Linked DNA regions of Homo sapiens. The protein of the gene in region 3 interacts with the protein of the main gene of each other region in a pairwise test. Each region holds a gene or a part of one and is shown on either strand. Other genes may lie near its edges.

The links.
Region 1: the proteins of SLC13A4 (region 3) and ERMP1 interact in binary tests that used the Homo sapiens proteins (3 or more experiments, as listed by UniProt).
Region 2: the proteins of SLC13A4 (region 3) and DEFB108B interact in binary tests that used the Homo sapiens proteins (3 or more experiments, as listed by UniProt).

Annotation. Positions count from the first base shown.
Region 1 is NC_000009.12:5,784,055-5,788,134, forward strand, and holds the end of ERMP1 (endoplasmic reticulum metallopeptidase 1), read right to left. Parts: intron 3,540-4,080; coding exon 3,376-3,539; intron 3,255-3,375; coding exon 3,090-3,254; 3' UTR 518-3,089; downstream 1-517. UniProt on the Homo sapiens protein: Within the ovary, required for the organization of somatic cells and oocytes into discrete follicular structures.
Region 2 is NC_000011.10:71,828,331-71,836,216, reverse strand, and holds the start of DEFB108B (beta-defensin 108B precursor), read right to left. Parts: upstream 3,018-7,886; coding exon 2,960-3,017; intron 1-2,959. UniProt on the Homo sapiens protein: Has antibacterial activity.
Region 3 is NC_000007.14:135,704,183-135,711,216, forward strand, and holds part of SLC13A4 (solute carrier family 13 member 4), read right to left. Parts: intron 4,415-7,034; exon of another isoform or gene 4,069-4,414; coding exon 3,932-4,068; exon of another isoform or gene 2,628-3,931; coding exon of another isoform or gene 2,419-2,627; intron 2,291-2,418; exon of another isoform or gene 2,119-2,290; coding exon 1,946-2,118; exon of another isoform or gene 1,469-1,945; coding exon 1,414-1,468; exon of another isoform or gene 1-1,413. UniProt on the Homo sapiens protein: Sodium:sulfate symporter that mediates sulfate reabsorption in the high endothelial venules (HEV).

The DNA of each region.
Region 1 (4,080 bases), on a different chromosome or scaffold from region 3:
ATTAGGTTAGAAGTTGTTCAGCTGCTTCACCTTGCATTGAACTGTTCTGAGAGAATTCACTCAAAGTTTAAATAACTTGCACAGAGATCTCTGAACTCAAAGTTCATGCTCTATTTTGGTGAGTGGTGGTGCCCTTTCCTTCTGTGGAGATTAGAATAAGCAATGAGTCACTCTGGCTGAAAGGCAACTTCTTCCCTCCCTCCTACCCTTACTCCCAAATAAAAGAACGCCCTTTACCCTTTGCTATTTTTTTGCTAATGGGGATGATTTAAAACTCCTACATAGGTGAAGCTCAACATTTACCTAATAATTTCTGTGAAATTCAGAAGTACCATTTCATTCTAAGATAAAGGATTCTAACTGAAGTAAACATTTCCATGTTGAGTTCTTTGCTCACATGAGCCATCTAGGTCTTTTAACAGCAATTAAAAGGCTCTGTGGACATGGAATAACCCTTGAAAATATGGGGATACAGAAGAACACAGATCTGTTTTTCAGTTAAAAAGATACCAACCAGTATATTAAACAGTTTATTTCAGTAACATTGTAAGGCAACAATTAATCCTCAGTAAGTCAGCAAACCAGTGACAAGAAATTGACAAACACTCCTTCTACAGCTTCCTGAGACAGCAGGCTGGCTTGTGGCCCCCTGGGTGGTAACATCTTAAGGAATCCTATCATGTTTGTTTATATATGCTAAACTGTAAAAACAAACACTTCATGCGACAATCATTCTTAGGTCAAACACAAGAACGAACTATTTTGAAATCAATTCCTCACACTTTTTCCCTGAATATGCAGTACTGTACTACTAACATCTAATTCTGTAGAAAATAATGCATTTGTTAGTGACTTTGTTAGAGCTTGAAAAGACCCTTTTAGAAATTATTTAAATGATCACTCTTTAAAAATTTTTTTTAATCTCAGAATCTACTAATGTGACAGACAAACGGTATGCTTAACAGAGTCATAAATACTGTGTATAATTGCTTGACCATTTCTGGCATTTAAATGACCTCCCAGAATATTACACAAGCCCTGAGACTAGTGAGCATCTTACTACTGACCTTGTACAATACCAAAGCTTCATAATGCTAAAGAAAACCAAAACAAAAGACAATGGTTTACACAGGGAAATAACCCTAAGGCAATATGAAAACAGTCATAATTTATTACTGATAAAGAGTAAAGGCATCCTTCCCATAGAGGGGGGGAATTCACAGGGAACACTAATTATATCAGATGAACCACGGGGATAGAAAATAGGCCCATTTTTAAAATTCATTGAGAAATTATTACTTTTTCTCCACAACTGTGATTCTATACAAAATATAAACCCTGCAAACCTTATGTGCTACCTGACAGATAAAAGTAGCAGGAGCCAGACTCTTGAAGCACTTGAGACTGATTTCTACAAAGTCCAGGAAGAGCAATGATTCCAGTGTGCAGTGCTGATGCATGTGTGAGCCTAACATGTTATTCAGCTCTGGTTGCAGCCCCATCTACATGGGCCCAGTTAGTTTTTAGGGAGTCACAGATTAGGCAGGCAACGAGGGGCATGATTTAAAAAGCACATCATACACATGAGACAAGCAGCTTCAAGGACGTTTTCTCCGGCAATGCATACTTACTGTGCTCTTTCTATTCAGACAGATCCACAGACCACCTTTCAAGAGCATTCCTCTCTCATTTCCTCCATCACCCAAGATAAATCTAGCCACCCTTTTTTGTTAACTGTGCCTTTTCTTTCAACTTTTTGTCCTTGTTAAAACTCAAAATTTGTCCAACGTTTCACATTTCCTAATGATAAAAAGAAAGCTTGCACAGTTTACCATTGATCTCACCAATGCCCTCACTGCTGGAACCAAAAAGCCATGAGAGGTACTGCTGTGATACACCTTACAAGCTACATAGCCATCTTCAAAATGAAAACCACCTTTTAAGTCCTCATGCTGCCATTACGCAGGATCTGAACCACCTACACGTACAGTGGTCTCATTCCAGTATAAGCCACAACCTCAAGTCTCAGGAAAGCCAGTCTGCTGGATAGTAAGTTACTGAGAAAAACTAATCTATTCAACTGGCTGGAAAACAAAAAGATAGGCCCAGTGCATCAGTAAGATTATACCATGAAGGACTAACCTTGTATAACACAAGACTCCTATGAAACAAAGAAAAGAGAATAAATATTTATAAAATTCCCACCACTCCCAGCCTTCCTTCTACCCCAGAATAGCCCAGATGGCAGCTCAGTGCTCTGAGGAAGGAAGTTAAGGTCATGTACTGGCACAAACAATATTCTGAACCAAAAGAACCTACGAAAACCAGAGGGGTATGTGGCCAAATATTCCCCTTTTCAACTTGGTAAGATGGAGAGGGGTAACAGACATGTTTCAGAGGAAAACAGGCATAGAAAACCACCTCAGGAAAGCAGCACAGCAGTGCATCTGTGTGTCCACTTGTCAGGACAGTGAGTCACCAGCTCAGCACAGGGTCCAGGCCTCAGCACAGAGAGACAAAGCACATTTGAGAGGCTGCCTGAAGAAACAGCTTGACACAGGCTACAGCCTCAAGAGTGCAATGCTTCTCTCCCAGCCCTATGGCAATCACTTTCCAGTGACCTACACAGAGTTATATTCTCAAGGGGAATCATTACCTCAGTGAATGATATTTTACCCACCATCCACTAATACAACAAATGGTTTTGGGGCTTAAATTGGAAACAACTTTTGTCTCATTAACAATGCTCTGACAGTGTACATCTTTCTTGATCCTAAAGGGGCAGCTATTGAAGTGGATTGTTGGCTTTGTCCTTAAGGTCATATAAAATGACGTGTGTGTAGTGGCAGTACCCACATGTGCTGAAGTGCCAAAAGACTGGCATTTTCAAGTGTCAACAGGCCATGCATCACTGCGCCACAGCTAAACCCTTATAGTGCTTGGCCCTGAAAAGCGTTAACCCAGAAAGCTCTTTGAACATATGATCATTAAAATTCATTGACTTACGTTACAAACATCCACGTAACATAGGGAGAAACCATGTCACATGGAGTATCCACTGGGCATGTACTTAGAGCTCATCCACAAGATTAAAATACAAAGAGATCGTAGGTGCACACCCAGGCAGAGGGAAATGTCCAATCTGGGAACTTTTCCTTCAGAGCATCCAGTTGAGGGGATCTCTTGTCTTCCCCAGACAGATAGTGGGCAGCAATGGCCACGGTGACCATTCCTTCAGGATGTTCTTCTGAAACCTGCCAGAGAAAATCAATTAGTTCTCCAGTTCTCAGAAGCCAGAATACTGAACCCAAGGTTCTTGCTAAATACCACCTGGGAACCTAATCAATGAAACAAACAATGCTGGGAAATTGGCACCTGCACTTCTATCCAGAACTGCCATGCAGAGGCCTGGAGTCCATGGGAGTAAAAGACAAAGTAGTCTCCTCCTTTACTTGTGACTGGGGTGCCATTGCCAAGAGACCACTGAGAAAGTGTTGACCCTTTGTGGGCTCGAACATAGAAGGACATATGGCTTGGTCCTGTAAGGTAAAAGGAAGAAAGAACAGTTAATCTTTTTAAAAGGATCAAAAAAATAACCCACAATCCAAACCAGACTTCATAAAGGTTCATGCCTGCATGACTTTAAATATACTTACTATAAACCTAATGGAGGTTTACCAGTTTGGACACTTAGTGTGAATCAACAAGGTTAAATAATGAGGTACAGGAGAAAAGGCACAGACTGTAAATGAGAAAGCCTGTGTTAAGTTGGTCCTATCACTTAACTGCTGCATGACATCAGGAATTTAATCTATGTCACAATTTCTTCATTGAGGGGATTATATTAGAAAAAGCATATGAAAGTGTTGGCAAAACTGCGAAGTGCTGTAACAGTACTGAATAGGACTGCCATTATGAATGGAGTTGTAATTTTCAGAGTTGATCATGTAACACCTTAAAATATGTTTTACTAGTTTTTCCCTTCAAGCTGGAAAATATTAGCTCAGTTCTGAAAATTTAGTCATCACTGGGAACTTCCAAGGAAACTGATGACAGTGGAAGTCAAACTAAAACTAAAAT
Region 2 (7,886 bases), on a different chromosome or scaffold from region 3:
AATGATAATTCTAGATGTTGGTCACTTAGTAGAAACAAGCTGAAATCTGAGTTTTTTGATCCCTGAGCTTTCCATCTCTTCCTTTTATCTGTAAGTAGTCAGCTACTACGTATAGTAGTACCCAAGCCCACTGGCCTTGTGCTAAAATTGGCCCTTTGCAGCTGGAAGAGTCATAAGAGATTAGTATAGTGTAGAGGATGAACCACTGACCTGTCTTGTGATATGTGATAAATCACTCTTGAACATCCCTCTGTGGTAGTACTTCTTGCATTCTACTACGGGTGGTGTTTTCTCATCTGACCTCAATTCTTGATAATGAATTTCTTGAGGGCAGGAATCATATCTTATTCTCCTCTGTATGTATATTCCAGAATCTGATTAAAGTCTTGGCTTATAATAGCTATTCAGTAAATGATTGTGGAATAATTGATTAAAATACAGCTGTTTTCTAACTTGCAATATGTTTGTGCAGAAATTTGTTGTTACTCTCGGTTCACAGGTCTTTGAATCATGTGTACTATGTTACTATACCTGATTCTATTGAGCATTATATTTTCAAACCACTTTTCAAGAAACTTAATACAGAACTACCATTTGACCCAGTAATCTCACTACTGGGTGTATATCCAAAGGAAAATAAATCAGTCTTGTAAAAAGACCTAAATTTGTATGTTCATCACAGTGGTATTCACAGTAGCAAAGGTATGGAATCAAACTAGGTGTTCATCAACAGTGGATTGAATAAAGCAAATGTAGTACATATATGTCATGGAATACTATGCAGCCATAAAAAGAACAAAACTGTGTCTTTTTCAGTAACATGGATGCAGCTGGAGGACTTTATTCTAAGCAAATTATCTCAGGAACAGGAAGCCAAATACCACATATTCTCAGTTATAAGGGGGGGCCGAGCAATAAGTGCACATGGACATAAAAATGGGAACAAGAGAGATTGGGACTTACCAGGAGGGGAGGGAGAGGGAGTAAAGTCTGAAAAGCTACCCTTTAGGTACACCCTACCTGCGTGACAGAGTTATTCATACCCCAAACCTCAATATCACACAATATACCCATGTAACAAATCTGCACATGCACTCCCTGAATCTAAAATAAAGGTTGAAATTATTTTAAAAAATTGAAATTACAAAGGGCTTTTTAAAATTATGATGTACCATTGTTCATTTACAAGAATTCAAGTAACATTAGGGATTTTAAAAATCTTTTGTTTTCATTTGTTCTTTGCTTGTAAACCTTGTGTATTGCATATTGTGGACACTATGTCTTTTCCAGCTATTTGCTTTAGGAACAAAAGCTAGAGTTACAATGAACATCATAGGCTGTCTTGTCTAGTCGCTTACCTTAAAGATGAGGAAATAAGCTGACGGAAAGAAAGAAACTTGCTCAAGATCACCCAGTGATGGAGTGAGACAGATGATAGGGATGGCACTAAGGCTTGGTATTCTGAGCCTCATTCTATTTTCCACTCTTGCCCTCTCTCTGTGTCCTCCTCTCTTCTCTAGCCTTCTACAAAAAGTTTGCAGTTCTGCTTCAATGTCTACCTAAGGACATCCAGAGGAGGTGCCACCTTTCATTAGGCTGCATTCTTTAGCACCATCCTGTGTTTTCTTCTCCAGTCTTGTTGCATCCCATTTTTGACTGTGAGTAATGCTTCTGCCTGTGCTGTTCTATCCAATTAGTTGCTTCTATTTTGATTGAGTGACAATGAAAACAACAAAAAAAATTTGTTTATCCAAATTTGGAATTTTTAAACCTTGATTAAAAGCATTGATTTTCTGGGGTTATATATGTAAGACACATATTTTAAAATATTTTTAACTGGTTAAAAAAATCAAACCCATGTATTTAGCCAGGGTGACTATTTAACAAGTACTAGGAATTCAGTAATGCCACAAGGATAATAATCTTATAAGTCAGTCCCCGATGTTGTGTGCTACCGAGTTAATATAATTGGATATGGTATCACCTTTTTTCAGGCTTTAGGAAGTCACACAAAGGAACGGCACAACAGAACTCCAGGGTGGGATGTATTAGGGAAAGCCAGGATATTAAAACAAAGTGTTGACTCTGACATTTACCCCACTGTTGAGAAAAGCACTTCAGTTTCCAGGGCCTTAATTTTTTTCTCTATAAAACAGCAAAAATAGAGGCAATAAGTTGCTTATTCATCCTTGAATACACATGTTCAGGAGTTCCAGAAAATTTTTGGATCTATTTTGGGTGTCTGGTAACCACCATGGGCAAATCCAAGAAGTCCTAGACACACTTCTCCAAAGCATGTCTGTGCAAGGGGCCTTATACCTGTGATTAATGTTTGCATGCTGAATGCAGTAGGCTATGCCCTGGTGTGGGGTCATCCCTGGTTCCTGTGTTTAAATTCTACATTACAAGACTAGATGCTGAGAAGGAAGAGGGAAAGCCAGGGATGGAGATGGAGCCTTAAGGGGAAAAGTCAAGCCCCAGTGACCAACAGTATTGGGGAGCAATAGGTTAAAGATTTCTTAGATTATAATAATATTTTCAAAGAGACTTCTTCCACCAATCCCTTCTGTCTGAGCCTACCACAGCTTTGGCATAGCTCTTATGCCAGTTCTTAGGAAAACTAACTGTTGCTGAAGGAAACTAGAGGAGCTTTGGAGACCAAGATTTAGTAGAATAATGCCTGATTTTTAATTTTTGATGTCTAGTAACTGCTAGTAAACTTGCCTAATTTGGAGATGGAATAAGAGGGTTTCAAAGACTTGAAACACCATTGACTTCATTTAACTGAGTTGCTATGGAGAATTAATGAATTAGATGGCTGCAGGCCTCTCAGCCAATGAGTCTTCCAGATTTCCTATGAGACCCCCTTTTCTGGTTATAGGTGATGGTGATTTCTCTTTGAGTATTGAATCCCTGTAAGGTGTTAGGCACTCTACTCTTACCAAGTTTATTTTGTTACCTGGTAGAACTTGGCTCATAAAGAAGAAAATGGCGAAGAGGAGGACAGCAATCCTCATGGCTGAAGAAAGAAAAAAGTTTGTCTTCATTTCCAGGAGGCAGAGAAAACTTCCATCTGTGGCTGTCTAGCACCAGTGGAATGTCTCTGTTTGGATAATAAGAGTCTTTGTGTACCTCATTAGGCATATTCATAGATAGACGTGTTCTATGCATGCAAAATTGCTTTTATGGGAAGACTGAGAGTCCTTTTTTTATTGGACAGCCAGTTCATTAGTATGATGTGGGTGCACAGTTTTGGCCATAAAACCTTGTTAAATGGGGACATAAGCTACAAACATTTTGGCAAAAGATGAAAGTTTATGAACAAACAACCATTTATATTGTTACAATAAATTAGACTGTGTTGAGAAACCAGTTGGTTTCATTAATGACCAGACATTTTGTTAGTGAACACTTCCCAGACTTTACTTGCCCTGCTAAGAATTAATCACCCCACTTTCTCCTGGTCTGAAAGTCCAAAGTGCTTTGTTTATGTTACAGTACTTACTGCCTTGTATGTTAGATTAGTGAATGTATATTTGCCTCATCCACTACTGTATGAGCTTCTTGCTTGCTAGGACAAGACTATATTACTCAGAACTGAGGAGGGAGTTGAATCATGTGGCTATTTATTCTCAAATCCTCTTCACCAAGTGGAACAAAACAACAGTGAAAGACCACCGCACATGGAGGCAGGAGGTCTGGATTTGGATTCTAGATCTCTAGATCTATTACTAACTGGAGGTATGGATATAGTCAGGAAAATTGTCTTCCTTAGGTGCTTCCTTGATAGCGTCTATAAAGGTCGAGATCTGTTGGATCTAGATCAGGGGATTCTCAATCATTACTATGCAGAAAATCAACTGGGAGAGTTACTTTGCAATACAGATGCTTAGTTCCATCTCATGATATTTTTATTTTTTTTAAAATTGGTCTAGTATTTTTTGTTGTTTGTTGTTGTTGTTTTTATTGATCATTCTTGGGTGTTTCTTGCAGAGGGGGATTTGGCAGGGTCATAGGACAGTAGTGGAAGGAAGGTCAGCAGATAAACAAGTGAACAAAGGTCTCTGGTTTTCCTAGGCAGAGGACCCTGCGGCCTTCCGCAGTGTTTGTGTCCCTGGTTACTTGAGATTAGGGAGTGGTGATGACTCTTAACGAGCATGCTGCCTTCAAGCATCTGTTTAACAAAGCACATCTTGCACCGCCCTTAATCCATTTAACCCTGAGTGGACACAAAACATGTTTCAGAGAGCACCGGGTTGGGGGTAAGGTCATAGATCAACAGCATCCCAATGCAGAAGAATTTTTCTTAGTACAGAACAAAATGGAGTCTCCTAAATCTACTTCTTTCTACACAGACACAGCAACAATCTGATTTCTCTATCTTTTCCCCACATTTCCCCCTTTTCTATTCGACAAAACCGCCATCGTCATCATGGCCCATTCTCAATGAGCTGTTGGGTACACCTCCCAGACGGGGTGGCGGCCGGGCAGAGGGGCTCCTCACTTCCCAGAAGGGGCGGCCGGGCAGAGGCGCCCCCCACCTCCCAGACGGGGCGGCGGCCGGGCGGAGGCGGCCCCCCACCTCCCTCCCGGACGGGGCGGCTGGCCGGGCGGGGGCTGCCCCCGGGGCTGCCCCCCGCCTCCCTCCCGGACGGGGAGGCTGGATGGGTGGGGGCTGCCCCCCACCTCCCGGACGGGCCGGCTGCCGGGCGGAGACGCTCCTCACTTCCCGGATGGGGCGGCTGCCGGGCAGAGGTGCTCCTCACATGCCAGACGGGGTGGCGGGGCAGAGGTGCTCCCCACATCTCAGACATGGGCGGCTGGGCAGAGACGCTCCTCACTTCCTAGACGGGATGGCGGCCGGGGAGAGGCACTCCTCACTTCCCAGACTGGGCAGCCGGGCAGAGGGGTTCCTCACATCCCAGATGATGGGCGGCCAGACAGAGACACTCCTCACTTCCCAGACGGGGTGGTGGCTGGGCAGAGGCTGCAATCTTGGCACTTTGGGAGGCCAAGGCAGGCGGCTTGGAGGTGGAGGTTGTAGTGAGCCGAGATCACGCCACTGCACTCCAGCCTGGGCAACATTGAGCACTGAGTGAACAAGACTCTGTCTGCAATCCCGGCGCCTCGGGAGGCTGAGGCTGGCAGATCACTCGTGGTTAGGAGTTGGAGACCAGCCCGGCCAACAGAGCGAAACCCAGTCTCCACCAAAAAAATACGAAAACCAGTCATGCGTGGCTGCACGTGCCTGCAATCGCAGGCACTCGGCAGGCTGAGGCAGGAGAATCAGGCAGGGAGGTTGCAGTGAGCGGAGATGGAGCAGTACAGTCCAGCTTTGGCTCGGCATCAGAGGGAGACCGTGGAAAGAGGGAGAGGGAGAGGGGGAGGGGAGGGGGAGGGGGAGAGGGAGGGAGAGGGAGAGGTGGTCAAGTATTTTTCATTAAATAATGTAAACTTTCTTAGTCTACATCTAATAAAACTCCCACCAGCATACAAATACATTGAATGATATTAGCAGCAGAATCTTTAAATAAAGTAACCATACAGAACTATTAGGCCATCTTTTTTTCATTGCTTATTATTTCATGCTATTTGTCACCATTGTCATCATAATCAGCCTCATCCTACATTGTTGAACACCCATCACGGACCATATGGCATAAACATTTTTCCTACTCATAAAGGAGCATATGTTCTCTATATGTATATAAAATTAATGTCTGAACAAACTGGCTTAAACAAGGCAGAAGTTGGTTTCTCCCTCACTTAAATCTATAGTTCTACCTACCATGGCTAATACAGATACCTGCCAAATTCATTAGGGATGCAGGCCCCTTCCAGCTCTCTGTTCTGCTATACTTTAGAAGAGGCTCTAGTTTGGCTGCCAAATCCCCACCTATCATTTTTGAATTCCAGGCAGCAGGAAGGAAAAAAGCCAAGAGAGAAAAACAAGGGAGCATCTACCCCTCCTTTTAAGTATTTTAACCAACCCCTCTTGTTTTTTTTTAACTGACTTTGTTGAGCTATGATTACATTTAAAAAGCTGTACATATTTAAGGTGTACATCTCAGTGAGTTTGGGGATAAGTATACACCATGAACACATCACTACCATCAAGATTATAAACATATCCTTCACCTCCCTAAGTCCCCCCCCTTTATTATTATTATTTTTTTGGTAACAAATATTGGTAAGAATACAAAATCTATCCTTTTAGCAAATTTTAAGTGTGTAATACAGTATTCTTAGCTGTAAGCACTATGCTGTAAACGAGACCTCCAGAACTTACTTATGTGGTATATCTGAAACTTTGTGCTGTAACCACATCTACCCATTTCCCCAGCACCACGGCCCCTGGCAACCACCATTCTACTCTCTGCTTTTGTGAGTTTTTCTATTTTAGATTTCAAATACAAGTGAAATCATATAGTAATTGTCATTCTGTGGTTGGCCTATTTCATATAACGTAATGCCCTCCAAGTCCATCCATGTTGTCACAAATGACAGGGTTTCATTATTATGTAACACTGAATAATATTCCATTGCATATATGTATCAGCCATTTATCCTGATACTCTTCCTCCACCTGCCTCCCAACAGTCCCCAGTGTGTGTTGTTCCCCTCCTAATATCCATGTGTTCTCACTGTTCTGCTCCCACTTATAAGTTAGAACGTGCAGTGTTTGGTTTTCTGTTCATGGGTTAGTTTGCTGAGGATAATGGCTTCCAGCTCCATTCATGTTCCTGCAAAGAACATGATCTCATTCCTTTTTACGGCTGCATAGTATTCCATGGTGTATACGTACCACATTTTCTTTATCCAGTCTGTCACTGATGGACATTTGGGTTGATTCCATGTCTTTGCTATTGTGAATAGTGCTGCAATGAACATATGTATGCATGTATCTTTATAATAGAATGATTTATATTCCTTTTGGTATATACCCAGTAATGGGATTGCTGGGTCAAGTGGTATTTCTGGTTGTAGGTCTTTGAGGAATCACCATACTGTCTTCCACAATAGTTGAACTAATTTACATTCCCACCAACAGTGTAAAAGTGTTCTTATATCTCAACAGCCTCATCAGCAGGTAGTTTTATTTAAAAAATTTTTGAGAAACCTTCATACTATTATCTGAAATGGACATAGTAATTTGTATTTCCACCACAAGTATACAAGGGTTATCTTTTCTCCACATCCTCACTAATACTTGTTATACATCTTTTTGATAATAGCTATTCTAAGAGGTATCAGATGATATTTCATGGTGGTTTTTTTATTTACATCCCCCTGATGATTAGAGACGGTAAGAATTTTTTCATATATTTGTTGGCCATTTGTATCTGTTCTTCTGGGAAATGTCTACTCAGATCTTTGCCCTTTTTTTTTTTTTTTTTTTTGAGATGGAGTCTCGCTTTGTCACCCAGGCTGGAGTGCAGTGGCGTGATCTTGGCTCACTGCAAGCTCCACCTCCCAGGTTCATGCCATTCTCCTGCCTCAGCCTCCCAAGTAGCTGGGACTACAGGCACCCGCCACCATGCCCAGCTAATTTTTTGTATTTTTTGTATTTTTTTTTTTTTTTAGTGGAGACAGGGTTTCACCGTGTTAGCCAGATCTTTGCCCATTTAAAAAAAAATTCAACTTTTATTTTAGATTCAGGAGATGCATGTGCAGGTTTTTACATTGGCACATTGTGTGATGCTGAGGAGTATGAATGATCTTGTAACCCAGATAGAAAACATAATACCCAATAGATAGTTTTTCAGGCTTTTGTCCCCACCTTCCCTTCCCCCTCTAGTAGTCCCCAGTATCTGTTGTTCCGATCTTTACTTCCATGTGTAACCAATGCTTTGTTCTCACTTATAACTAAGAACATATGGTATTTG
Region 3 (7,034 bases):
GCAGAGGCAGCCCCAATACAGGGGTTGTGGGGGAGTTAACCACCAGAGCACAGGCCCTGGAGGGTGGCGTGAGTGTTAATCCCAGAGCAAGGCCCTGCCATCAGGCCTGAGGCCCTGCAGAGGGCGCCATAATGGGATGCTCCAAAGACCCTGAAGGCAGTTGCCCCACAGATGAAAGAGCCAGGGACTGAAATCTCAGAGAGGGCACCAACCCCAGACCTCAATAGCCCCCATCCAGACCCTTCTCACCCATTTATCTTTCCTGTACCCTAGAGCTGCTGTCCTAAGCCCAGAAAAGTCAGAAGCAGCAGAGTGAGGGTGCGGTTAGGGGAGGAGGAGAAGAGGGAGGTGGAGGAAGACAGAAAGAAGCTCAACTCCCTCCCCCGACTTACTTTCACCTTCTTTCTTCTGCAGGCCTAGGGTGAGGGGTGGGTGGGTATGGGAGAAGCTTTGGCTGAGAAGTTGAAGTTTTGATTTGAATTTGGACTAGTCTCCCAAATGTCTGAACATGAGATTGTTATAATACCTGAAAGGAACCAGGAGAGCTACGGGATTTGCCTGGGATATCATCAAGGGTGATGTCATCAAGAAATCCAATATGCTATGATTGAAGATAGTGGTGGAGAAAAATAAAGCGATTTCCTGATGGCACCCTTCCACGTCTGTCCCACTGTGAACGCTGATTTCACCCAATGTGCGTTCTCCTTTTTTACAACAAGGGCAAATGACAGAGCTGAGCTGTATTACAAATCCAGCTTTTAAATGTGGACTATTCATTGTGGCATGCCTGTGGGCCACATTTTGAAATAGAATCTCCAAATGGAATCAGCTGTTAATAGAGCTTCCTCCAGGAATGTCTGAGGCTGCTTCTCCTTTTCCAGCTCTGCTTCCCATCATCACAAGGCCCTCTCACCTCCTGTCCCCTCATCCCCTACCTGTCACCTAAGTTTTCTTTGCCATATCTAACAAGACCAAATCTACCAAGACCTTATCTAATATCTAGAAAATATTTCATGATTCTCCAAGAATCTGCAGTGGCATCGAGATGTGAACGGTTTTCCGTTAACAAATTAAACATACTATTTTCCTAAAAGGGACATGAATTTAGAAGAGATTCTGCATGGTGGCTGTGTGGACAGTTCATATATCCACTGAGATTCAGTGTGGCCTTTTTATTTCTTCCTCATCACTGCAACACTGTGGTTAAGGGAGTGACTCTCCAGGTCCTGACAGGTCACTCCTAGGTATGGAGAGGAAATGGGGGAGGTTGGGCGGGGTGGGGGGGTGGTGTGGCAAGGTGGTGAGCTTGGGTGGTACATCTCAAAGAGCTGTTTATGGGTCTAGGTCCCCTCTTTTCTGACCTCCCCTATGGACTCTGAGAGGCGCTGTCTGGGAGAGGGCAGTCATACTCACTCTTCATTGACAAAGATGAGTTCCAGAGAAGGTTGGCTGTTCTTTACATCCAGACCTATGAGTAGCAAAGAAAAGCAGTATGTGAGAGGTGGAGGCTGGGGCTGACCCTGTGGGTTGGAGCATAGCTCAAGGGCTTAGGGCGGAGGTGGGCCATATGGAGTGGGTGACATTTCTCCTTCCCTTTGCTCTGTAAATAGAATGGGGCTCATGGATGCAGACTGGCCCCAGGGTTTTGCAGTGATCCTTGAGCATTTGGGGGCAAAGAGCAGTGTGTACCCTTGAGCATTTGGGGGAAAAGAGCCCAGAAGTGAAGGAGGAAGGAAGAGCCAGAACAGGGAGTTCAGGGAAGCTTCAGAGTCCAAGAGCTGGGATGGGAAAGAGGAGAGAGGGAAGAGGAAGGGGAATGTGGGGGCATGGCTGAGGGGGTCCTGGGGTGGGCACAAAGTTGGGCAGTCTCCCTAGAGGAGCCAGGCAGGAGGACCCCAGGGGAGGTTGGAGGAGCAAAGGAGAGATGAACTCCAGCAAACTGTACTGATGGGTTCGGCCTCTTCGGTGTTGGAGTTGCCCGCCACGAGCTGCTCGTCCTCAGCACTGACCAGCTCCTGCAGCACGGCCTCCACGATGGGCATCACCATGGCGGTGGTGGAGGTGTTGGACAGCCACATGGACAGCAACGTGGTACAGCACATGAAGCAGAGCAGCAGCCTGGAAGGCAGGGAGGGTTGGGGCAGAGCGTCCACGGAACACACATCCCTGCGGCTCCACAGTGGGCCTCCTACCAACCTGCTGGGGCTGGTCTAGACAGCTGTGGCTGGAAAGGCAGGCATTTGTCCTGCAGGGTGCCATTCAGCTCTGTACTCCCAATGCTTGGCACAGCGTAAGTATTAAAGCAATACTTCTTGAATGAATGAATCACACTTCATGGACTAGCGGCCTTAGCCAGAAAAAAGTCCTTAGTGAAGCAAAGAATAGCTCTGGTAGTAGGGCCACAGGGTGTAGACTTACCATTGTTTTTCTGTCTCCACGGACATTGGCTGGAGCTTGGCGGTGATGTGTGTTTGTGTGTGGAAGGCAATACTTTGTTTGCCCTCGCAGCCAGCAATTCTGTGAGCGCCACGGCACTCCTTGCTTTGCCGCCAAGTCACCATAGATATCAGTGACCCAATAGAGATGAATGTTTGGAGCTCACAGTTCCACCCACTACCTGTCAACATGCTGAAGGCATAGCCCCCAAAGTCACAGAAGTGTCCCGTGTCACTGTGTGCACTTTTCCAGCTGACATCTTAAAGCGTCAACACTTGGAGAAAAACACTAACAAGGTTAACCCTCTAATTATTTCTCTTTGGCTTTGAGAACGTTGTGCAATGTGTGCCTGTACAGACATGTCCTAGTTTCCATAAGATAAGCCAACATAAAGACTACTGTGTTTATTATTTTAGGTGGAATCACTGACTTTGCACAACTTGGGGACAGTACGTTTATCATGTGGACTCCATTGGCTGACAGCGACTTGACTTTGCCAATTCTGTACCTACACGGGTAACTGCCTCTGGGGGTGGCAACTTGCTGACTGATGTAAATAGGGAGGAGTGGAAATGTGAGAGGATAAAAATTCTTGCAGATAGTACACAGAGATTTTAAAGAGCCACAGAGTCTCCATATGATGTGACGAAATGCCACTGTGTGCCTGGGAGGTTGAGTGTAGGGGCAAGATTATTACTGAGTTAGGGGGTGGATTAAGCTGTAGTTATCAGACCTGTTTGACAATCTGGGAGACAGGAACATGCTTTTAAGCATAACCTATAGTCATCTAAATGACTCATACTGAGAACCAATACTATATTATTTATTTATACTCGTGTTGACTCCCATAGGAGTCAGGGCAGCTTACATAAAATACAGCAAGAAAGTTGTAAACTAGAAGGAGGTGAGCAGGATATTCCAAAAGGGAAGGTACAGGCAGGGGAATCCAAATGGAACATTGCTGAAGCTAACACAAAACTCAACCTTGACACCGTAACACATTCCCCGAGGGTGGGACTCCCTCCCGCATCACAGTCAAATGCAGTGTCTCTAACTGGGTCTGTGGTCTGAACTGATGACAAAAACTCAGGGTGGATGGGAGGAAACATTCCCGTCTCCTTCAGTGACAAAGGAGAAGACAGCCACTTCCGGTCCAGCCTGTTCCCTGATACACAGGAAACAGGTTGGGAAACAATTTCTCTTGGTCCATCCTGTTTTACCTGATGGGCCCCTATATGTTGTAAGCTGCTGCCCTTGCAGCCTAGGTCAATGGGTAAATTCTTTGGATAATGATAGCAAGGTCACAGGTTTAAATCTCTACTCCATGATCACAGGCCCTCTCCCTGGACGGGTCCTATGGCTCTGGTGTCAGCCCGACCCTTTGGTAAAAAAACAGCTGAAGTGGACATCCCGCAGTGACCTGAGACCACTGTCCTGGTGGCACACTGGGAGCTAGAAGGATGCCCTATGTCCTGGCATCCCAAATAAGACTTACATGCCCGGCTTGGCTCCGGCCATCAAGACCATGCGCAGAGCAATGCGCTTATGCAGGTTCCACTTCTCCACGGCAGCCGCCACGCAGATGACCCCCACCAGCAGCAGCGTGGTGTTCTTGAAGTACTCCGCCGCCACCTGTAGGGAGGCCAGGCATGTCAGTCACCCTCCCGGACCAAAGACCCAGGGCCCAGCACCAGCTGGGAGAATGGGCCATACCCAATAAAACCTGTTCTCAATCAAAGAGGCTGGCGAAGGGGAGGCAGGGGGGTGAGGATTATTGAAATAGCCGCCCATCCTAGAGTCACATCTACTGAGCGTTCATTGTGGGCAGGCACTGTGCTAAGTACTTGACAGATTATTTCATTCAATCTGGCCCATAACTCTATAGGATAGATGTTCTTCTCCACTTTGGAAAACATAAAACCACTGTATTTAAATATGATGTGAATATGATTTTAAAGAATAAACACATATAATTTTATATTGATCTTTTAAAATAACCCTAGGTTTCTCCCCAAACCTAATTTTTAATGTTTTTAGAAAATATTAGAAAATTATTTTCATTTCATTTCTATTAGAAAATTAATACATACTCAGTATGGAAAACTTCAAAATATAAAAAAAGTTAAAGACAAAATTACCCTTAATCATGCTACTGTAAATACTTATAGTTTCTTCCATTTTTCCTATACCTATATAGATAAATGCATTTATACAGTATGTATACTTTTATATCTTGCCTTTTTTTCATTTAACATCATATCCTCATTATTGTTTTTCTTTGAGACAGAGTCTTGCTCAATTTTTTTTTTTTTTTTTTTTTTTTTTTTGTGAGATGGAGTCTCGCTCTGTCGCCCAGGCTGGAGTGCAGTGGTGCGATCTCGGCTCACTGCAAACTCCGCTTCCTGGGTTCACGCCATTCTCCTGCCTCAGCCTCCCGAGTAGCTGGGACCACAGGTGCCTGCCACCATGCCTGGCTAATTTTTTTTGTATTTTTAGTAGAGATGGGGTTTCACTGTGTTAGCCAGGATGGTCTCAATCTCCTGACCTCGTGATCCTCCTACCTCGGCCTCCCAAATTGCGGGGATCAGAAGCATGAGCCAGCGCACCCGGCCTTAATTTTAAAAATTTAAATAATTCCCAATAATTCTCAAGTTCCAATGAATTCCAAAAATGAAAATAGTACAAGGAATACCTATACACTCTTTTTTTTTTTCCCTGAACCATTTGAGGGTAAGTTACACACATTTTGGCTGGTCCTTTACCCCTAAATACTTCAGTGTATATTTTCCTTTCTTTCTTTTTTTTTTAAAAAAAAATTTGAGACAGGGTCTCACTCTGTCACCCAGGCTGGAGTGCAGTGGCATGATCACAGCTCACTGCAGCCTCAACCTCCCAGGCTCAGGGTATATTTTCTACGAGTAGGGATTTTCTCTTCCTTAGTGGCCACAGTACCAGTTATAAACTCCTTTCTACTTTTTAATTTAATGATGGGGAAGTTGAGACATAGGGCAGTTAAAAAGATGTTTCGCATGTTTGAGGTTCATGGACCAAATCTTTGTTGATTCTCTCACTTGGAACATTCTCTCTTTCCATCTCTGCCTGTACATTCCAATCAGACTTTGAAGCCCAGTTCAGGCCTGGCATCCTCTAGAAAAAACCTTTCTTGTGGCCCTAGCCTCTGATTCCAGAATATTCCTCCTGGGCACCATTAATTCCGCACACCACAGAGCACTTGGAGCAATGCTTGAATGATTGCTTCCTGATTGTACTGTTGTTTGTTTATTTTTGTATGTGTACTTCTCTTGTCTCTCAACTAAATTTTTCGGCTGTGAATGGTTCCCTTCTATATATCTTAACACCTAGTAGAATAATATGCAAAAGTAGATGCTCAATAAATATTTGTCACATACATGAGAATTGCTTCCAACTGGAGGAACCATACAGAAATTGAGAGGAAAAGCTATAGAAAAGTCTAACTTCTAATTGAAAAACCCTCTTAAAGTGAGAAAACAAGAACATTTTTAACTGCAGCAAAAATAAAAATTCAACAGGAAAGGAAATACATAGTAAAATACATAGCATTTGAAATAATATGTACATGATCATACTAATTTTGATTATTGAATTAACAAAAATTGTGATTGAGCATATTGGGAGGATGGTAGAAGGCGAAGTGGGGGATGTAAAAGAAAAAATCTTCCCGGGAGGCAGAGCTTGCAGTAAGCCGAGATCGCGCCACTGCACTCCAGCCTGGGCGACAGAGCGAGACTACGTCTCAAAAAAGAAAACAAAAAACAAAAAGAAAAAATCTTCATCTGCTATAACAAGAAGTCAACTGATAGCCGCTTAAAGTGAGAACTCAAGGACTAATATAAGAATATCATATGGGAATGGAGCTTAATGACAGAAGAAGCTGTTAACAAAGTTACAAGTTATTGACTCTGAGGGTGGGGTGGGACTTGGTAGGGGGGGAAGTGGGAGGGATGAGGAAAGAGACTGCTGACTTTTCATTATAAGCGTTCAGTATTAAAGTATTTGATTTTTAAACTTTGTGCACGAAACACTTTGATAACATCAAAACCAAAATAAAGGCAGGCTGCTCCATCTCTCCTTTCTCTCTTTTGCCCTATGGACATTTCATTGCATCTGGTTGATGAGGGTTGTGTAGGAGAAGGGACATCTGCCCTCACTGTGACCATTTCCTGGGGGGAAAAGCCCCTGCTTCTGGTTAACCCAGTGTTTGTCTCTAAGCCCATTCCTCAGCGGACTACTGTCACGAATGCCCCCTGGGGGCAGGGAAGGCCCCCTGCTCTGGACAGCTTGTGACTCCGTGGCAGAGTCCACTCTGAGAGGGCGGTGATCATGGTGGTGGGGGCGGGGGTGGGGTTGGGGGAGCGGCCCCCTAGCGGGAGCAGGAGGCACTGCAGGATTGTCCTAGGGAAGTGGTTGAACTTGGAGGTTCAAGGGCCTTTCTCACTGCCTGGTTACTTTCCCAGGCTTTGTGGAGGCGGCTTTGTGGCACAACTGGAGCTTTATTTTCTTGTCTACCGAGGAGAGAAACCCACAGAAGATGCGGGACCGTTGTGGGAGATGGTCTT